2 linked regions of the Homo sapiens genome follow. The protein of the gene in region 2 purifies or fractionates together with the protein of the main gene of each other region. This does not show direct contact. Each region holds a gene or a part of one and is shown on either strand. Other genes may lie near its edges.

Region 1 (3,721 bases), about 95 Mb from region 2:
GAAAAAAATCCCTGTATAAATAAACCAGTGGAGTTCAAACCTATGTTGTTCAAGGGCCAACTGTACATTTAAAAAAAATGCATATAGGAATGAATTTAAAGAATGAGCAAGGGCTATCTTTTGGCAAGTTTTACTCAGCAAGTGGAGAAGGCTTCTTTCCTTGGAAATAAAGCTTAAATTACTGAATTTGTGAATGTATTAGCCCTCCCGTTTGTCAGTTCTAGCACTCAACATGTGAAATTGGTCTTCATAAGTTCCTTACCTTTTGATATTCTTCTGTTTGCACTTTATCTACCACAATCCTTTATTCCGTATTCACTTTCTTCTTCCCACCTTTCCCACACTCCCTTATCCATAGACACTACCTGCTTTACGGGCTGTACAGAATCACAATTGTTCTCTCTTCAGAATGAGCCTACAAGCCTTTTCAAATCCTTTCAGTACTCACTAAGGGGAGTTGTTTTTTTTTTTTTTTAAAGAAAGAACATGATGGACAAAGGTTTACAAATTAAACATAGTCTTATTTGAAGTTTCATTTTATTTCAGTCTATAAGTATTGCTATTTGTTTAAAGCACTCACATAAATCCATTTCACCCAAAAAGGAAACATAAAGTGCTTCTAGCAGTACAAGCACGGTTGGCATGGCCTTTCCAAAGGTCTTCCACTAGAGTCTAGAGAAATCTAAATATAGTCATCCACAAACTGGATGTTTTTATTTTCTGAGCCATTAGAGATTTTCAAAATCACTTTGATTTTTAAAAACTCATCAAATGTGAATCATGGCGGGGAAGACCACTGAGCTGATTTCTGATAACTAAGTTATCACTGAACATAATTTATCATATATGGCTACTGGCATCATGAAGACCTTGGGATAGGGAAGACTCTTTATGAGAAATATAAACATCACTTGTGTAGGAATCACCAGGTGTCCCTAGAGCAGTTTTGTACTAAAGACTTCTAGTGTTTACTCCCTCACCACGGTACTCCAGCCCAAGAGCCAAGAGCACAATGGTCAAACTCACTGAAGGTTTTTACAACAGGAAACCAGTGGAGGTATTGTGAGGTACTACAACTTTGAGGCACAATCTAAATACTAAAAATGATTATGAAATCTTGAGTTGAGCTGATTGATGCCCTCTTAAATCCATTAATAATCCATGAAAGTGATTTCACATGCCTAGCCTGCTTTCTTTCTCACATGACAGCTGGGAGTATTAAATGAGATAAAGTTGCAGCCTAGCCCAGTGTCTGGGTACCATATCATTTCCTTCCTCCTCCCCTTTCCCAAATAAATAAGGTTAGTCCTTGAACTTTAAATGTACTTTATAATAAGAAGAAATCACTTTTTCTATCAGTATCCTTGTCAGCATGATTTGAATTGCTCTCAAGAGTACCTACTCTTTTGTAAAATAAACACTTTGTACTTTACTGAAAGAACACTAGTGTTCTTTCCTTTCCGTTGTGAAAAAAGTTGTTTCTGAGGAATTGAAACCCCAGAAGATAACTACAACAAAAACATGTTAATTTTTTTTTAAAAATGATGATTCAAAGGCAGATTTGAAGGGAAGTAATATTTAGGTGGCAGAAGAAGGCAAATGCAGCCTCTGAAGGGAACTGTTCTAATTATTACCTAAAAAATAAAGTTACACAACTATATTCAAGGACATGAGATAAAGCACTGCTTGAAAACCAGAATGACTGAACAGTTAGGTGAAAAGGAACAGCTGAAATAGGAAGGGGAAATGGACTGAAGAATAATTTGAATCGGGACAGTGATCCATCAGTCCTAGATGCTTCTGGTATGTAAATATCTTGAATCACATTGTTTCCTTTCTTCTGAAATCTCAAAGGAGAATTCTCACAGCACTACATTAAGGTTGCCATTTTGTTAGGATTCAAAATTTCAATCCAGTAGCCATCAGGATCTTGAATAAATGCCAGGCCTTTCATTTTACCTGTAAAATGAAAATTTTCATTATTGAAAAGACTAAAAAAGAAAACACCATAAAAATGTTTTTCTTTCTTTGAGACAAGGTCTTGCTCTGAATGTCAGGCTGGAGTGCATGGGATGATCATGGCCCAAGGCAGGCTTGACCTCCTGAGCTCAGCCTGCCAAGTAGCTGGGGCGACAGGCACGCACCACCTTGCCTGGCTAATTTTTTGATTTTGTAGAGGCGGGATCTCAATGTACTGCCCAGGCTGCTATCAAACTCCTGGCCTCAAGCAATCCTCCTGCCTTGCCTCCCAAAGTGGTGGGATTACAAGCACAAACCACTGCACCTGGCCTTAAAAACTTTTATTAATTAAAGATTTACTTTGCATTTTAATGAAGTACATTATTTTGTTTACAGTTTTAAATTTTAAAAATTCTTATTGTCAGAAAAGTATGAAAAGTCATACTTTTCATAATGACTAAAATGTTATCTTGCACACATTGCAAATACCAGCCCTCCTGAAATAAACTGTGGGACTGGCTGCATCTTTTAGGTATCAGGCATTTGCCTCACCTTCATGATACCACACTACCAGTTCAGTAGTTACAGAAATTGTCTTATTTTAAAGAAGAAAAAGAAAATAGGGAGGTGCTGAAGGGAGCTGGTAGCATGGCTTACCCCCACAACCAAAAGACCCAGATGCTTGGGTCATACAAACCCTTTTAAATACTATCCTAGGCAACCCAAGCTCTGCGAGAGTCTTTCTCCCAGGAATTCAAAACTGAGATTGAGAGTCTAGTATGTCAGAGCTGTTTGCTTAAATGGAAAAATATGACCTCAGAAATTTATTTGGGGACCATTATGTTGAATTGGTTTGACTCTTATCTCTGCCTCCTTTCTCCAAGATCAATCCTAGAGGAACATAGATGGAAAATGCAGGAAAAAGAAAGAAAGAGAGAAAGAGAAAGAGAAAGAGAAAGAGAGAAAGAGAGAAGGAAGGAAGGAGGGAGGGAGAGAGAGGAAGGAAGGAAGGAAGGAAAAGAAAAGGAAAAGAAAAGAAAAGAAAAGAAAAGGAAAGAAAGAAAGAAACCCGGCTGGTGACAGCTGGGGAGAATGGGTGAGGATGGGGCCGGGTGACTGTTTTAACTTGGGCTGTGTGGGAGGTGGTAGTTCTGGCCTGGACCAGAAGGCAGTGCATAATGGCTGCGAGAGAACAGAGTTTTGCTCTTGCTCCTCCCTCACTGCTGTGTGCATCGGCACCTGCCCTCTCGCTTGTTCAGATGTCCTTACCAGTAAACAAGGGCAGTGCAGGAGCCTTGTGCTTGTGAGAAACTGAGAAAAACTGGTAGGGCCGAATGATCTCCCCAGCCCTCTCTCCACGCCCAGGGCTAGGGAATAACACTATCGGAAGTGTCTCCTACTAATACTCTTCCCTGAGGGATGAAGTGGGAAGATCCAACCTGAAGAGGTGTTTTGTGGAAGGTGAAATAAATTTAAGTCTCATTTCTAGGTGCCTAGGAATCTCTGGCCTAGGCTTATCCAGCCCATTGTCCTGAGATCATGTGGGTTGTTAAGGACAGGGATCTGGCCATTCTCCTATTCACACTGCTTGATGTGTTAGAATAGCGAACAGTTGCAGGGGAAAAAAGCTCAGAGGCAAAAAATAATAATTTGAGAAACATAACCATAAAACACCCCCAAAGCAATGGACTGTAGATTCAAACAGAAGAAATATTAGAATAATGGACCAAGAGCTATTTTTGTTTTTTTTCTGGAGACAGGG
Region 2 (3,500 bases):
ATGTTCCTCAATTACTCTTCCTTTTTAGAAAAAAAGAGAAGCACATAAAGAAACAAAATCCTGGGAGATTAATCTGATGTGACCTAATAGCAAATTTTAGGAATCTTGTTTACCTAAAATTGATTCTAATAAGATATCACCAAGGTTTATTTTATATATAGAAGCACATCCAGGATCACAGTTTTGATAGCAAAGGTTTTGATATCACCTGTAAAATATATGAAGGGGTATAAAATGGTTTTGATATTACCTACAGATTATTTGAACTTTTAAAAACTATGATAATCATAGTTGACACTATGCATGAGAATGATACACTGACATAAAACATGATTTTTTTAAAAGATAAAATAAACCTGTTGAAAGTCTTTGAAATGACATTAATAACTGTTTATATTTATTTTTGATGGGATTCCAGAAAGATAATGCTTGCTAACCACCGTCCTTCAATGATTGAGGCTCTCTACTTGAGAAAGGACTTCTTTCTGTTGCCTCGGTTAGTTCCTCTGTCTGATTTTCACTGATAATGCTCCAAGCACCAGCTGATAAAGGGTCAACTAAATGCCCTGGTATAAATCTTGACCAAACATCTGGGCACAAGGTTACACAAAGAATTCCCAATTTATGTGACGGTGGTGCATGTTTTATTTTGTAGTTAAATTTTTTCCCACCAATTCTAAGAAACTTCTGGCTCAATGTGGTTTAATATGAGCTTTTGCTTGTTTCTTTTACAGCAGAATCATCTTTAACATGAAACTACAGATTGAATTCTACCTATACCCAGAGTACCTTTGTTAGATTGAAAAAGCCACACATACCTCCAACGTTGTTCTTGTAGGTGTTATATAATTCTTTTACTCTTCTGTAACGAAAAGCCAACTTCCTCATCCAGTCAACCCCTCCTCTTACACCTGTTGGCAAACAAAGGTTTGCACTACTTGCAGCTGCATGGAAGCCATCAGTTGCAAAACTGTAGGTACTGTAACACCCAAAATACATTAAAAAGAAATAATTACATGTGCAAAACTCCACAGCCGAATTTCTGTAGGAAACAGCATACTGAAAGGCATAGCTTACCTTAAGTCCTGCCCATTATCATCAGAGGAAACATCATCTATATGAACTTGATCACACTCCTGTTAAAAACATTGGAAAAGTTATTTGTTTTCTAAATGATGCTTGTTACCATGCTTGAAGGTTTTCCCATCTTCTCATCTGATCAGACTACCACCAGAAGATGGCAGCATGTGCCCGTCCATCTCATTGCCTCACTCTTGTTTTCTTCTGTTGGGAAATGGCACCATTTCTACCCCACAAAATTTAAATCCAGAAGAGTTCCATAGAAAGGAGGGGTGAGAAAATATACGGCATGAGAGTTTCTTTAGAGCAATTTAAAAATTTTAATCTTAAAATTATTGATAAGAAATTCTCTTGAATCTTCATAAGCATTTGAGTTCCCTTCCAGGCCATTTCTGTTGTGCATACTTAAGCATGGCTAATCTGAAGATACACAAAACTTAGTCTGAACACCTCAGATGGTTACTATTATTTATCATTTGTTGAGTGGCAACAGAGGGGCTTGCCTTCAGATTATGGTGTCCTGTGGAATTTCCATGACTTCCTGCTGGACCAGAACCATGAAAGAACCATGCTGGTGTTATTTCAAGGTCCTAGTCTTTTGACACAGAAAAAGGGTAATGATCATAGATATTGACATTTTCTTTTTGTCAAGTTTTTAAATTTTCAAATCAAAAAGACTACTTTTAAGTAAAAGGGAAATAATGACGATTTATCATCTCAAATGTGCTACAAAATTCCAAGCAAAATAAACTTTATGTAAGTATACCCACACAATTGACCTGATTTTTTTTTTTTTTATATGGAATCTCACTTAGTCGCCCAGGTTGGAGTGCAGTGGCGCGATCTCGGCTCACTGCAAGCTCTGCCTCCTGGGTTCACGCCATTCTCCTGCCTCAGCCTCCCGAGTAGCTGGGACTACAGGCGCCCGCCACCACGCCTGGCTAATTTTTTTGTGTTTTTTGTATTTTTACTAGAGATGATGTTTTACTGTGTTAGCCAGGATGGTCTCGATCTCCTGACCTTGTGATCCGCCTGTTTCGGCCTCCCAAAGTGCTGGGATTACAGGTGTGAGCCACCACGCCCGGCCACAGTTGACCTGATTGTAAGTTACTGTGTGCTCAGAACAAATGGTAACTTATGTGGATAAGGATTTGATCCTTCTTTGCTGTTCTGAGTCTTAGTCCATCTTCAAATAATCTGCAAAGTTCCAGCGCAATATTACAAGATCTAAAGGTGAAATTTGGTGAGGGCATTTAAAATGCCTAGTTCTCAGAATAATAAATATATAATAAATAAAAATAAATTATTTATAATAAATAACTACATCATATTAACCTCAGAGTAAGTATGGTTTAGCATCTTGGGCCTCCTTAGTCCCCCTCAAAGTATTTTACTCATACTTACAGCTTCTGACTATATACATAGTGCTTAGCATTCAAAATTAATTTTTAAAAAAAATCATTAAATTTGAAAATACACCATACTAAACAAAGGTTTTTTGAAAGCTACTATTTATATTCATTATTGGGCTTGAAAGTATCTGGCAGTCAAATATTTCATACCTAGTCTCCAGATTTCCACACAGAAAGTGTTTAATCCGGTTCCAGTTTAAAGGTATAGTTGACTCAGGCTTCCTTTAATATACAAAACTCAGTGACTAGCCCAATCAGTACCTTCTGAGTATGTAACTTGAAAATCCAGGTAAGTTAAAAGTTCATATAATTTACAGAAATTACAGGGTTAGTAAGTTTTGAATAAATCTCCACCTACACGTATGGGTCCCCAAATTTAATCTGACTGGAAGTGCCCTGGAGTGCGGCATTTGGTTCACCAGGTTACATCCCCACTTACGGCACAATCTAGCATAGAATAATCACTCCACAATTCTTTCTTAAATAAATGGGAGAAGTCTAGACAAATGCTAATTCTTTACAGGATTACCACAATCATTTAAATTTTCTAACACAAGGTTACGATGATATAAAATAAAAGCATTCTAAATGGTGAGGAGAGTAAGAAGATATTTATGTCAAGAGTGGAAGGAAGGGAGAGAGAAGAGTGCAGAGACTGCCCAAGGAATGGCCTGGCCGGACAGGTATTTAGAAAATGTCTTCCCCTCTTTGACCAAGTATTGGCTGAAAGGAGTGCAGTCCAAACTGTAACCAAAGGAGGCATTATGCTTCCTGAAAAACATCCAGTAAAGGCATTGCAAGCAATGATAGTAACTGCTGGACTGGGCTTTAAGGAAAAGAGTGGAGAGATTTTACCCATTAGCATAAGGGTTGGAAATAAAGTTTTTCTCCCAGAATATGGAGGCACCAAAGTAGTTCTAAATGATGAGATTATTTCTTATTTAGAGATGGTGACATACTTGGAAAGTCCGTAGACTGAAATAAATCACTATTGAAATGGTGTCACAT

The links. The genes of interacting proteins can lie anywhere in the genome.
Region 1: the proteins of EYA4 (region 2) and GLO1 purify together in Homo sapiens (affinity purification with mass spectrometry, with the first as the bait; one large-scale study listed by BioGRID). This does not show direct contact.

The regions. Positions count from the first base shown.
Region 1 is NC_000006.12:38,675,425-38,679,145, forward strand, and holds the end of GLO1 (lactoylglutathione lyase), read right to left. Parts: intron 1,960-3,721; coding exon 1,871-1,959; 3' UTR 501-1,870; downstream 1-500. UniProt on the Homo sapiens protein: Catalyzes the conversion of hemimercaptal, formed from methylglyoxal and glutathione, to S-lactoylglutathione. Involved in the regulation of TNF-induced transcriptional activity of NF-kappa-B. Required for normal osteoclastogenesis.
Region 2 is NC_000006.12:133,510,357-133,513,856, reverse strand, and holds part of EYA4 (protein phosphatase EYA4), read right to left. Parts: exon of another isoform or gene 3,131-3,500; intron 1,137-3,130; coding exon 1,078-1,136; intron 980-1,077; coding exon 819-979; intron 1-818. UniProt on the Homo sapiens protein: Tyrosine phosphatase that specifically dephosphorylates 'Tyr-142' of histone H2AX (H2AXY142ph). 'Tyr-142' phosphorylation of histone H2AX plays a central role in DNA repair and acts as a mark that distinguishes between apoptotic and repair responses to genotoxic stress.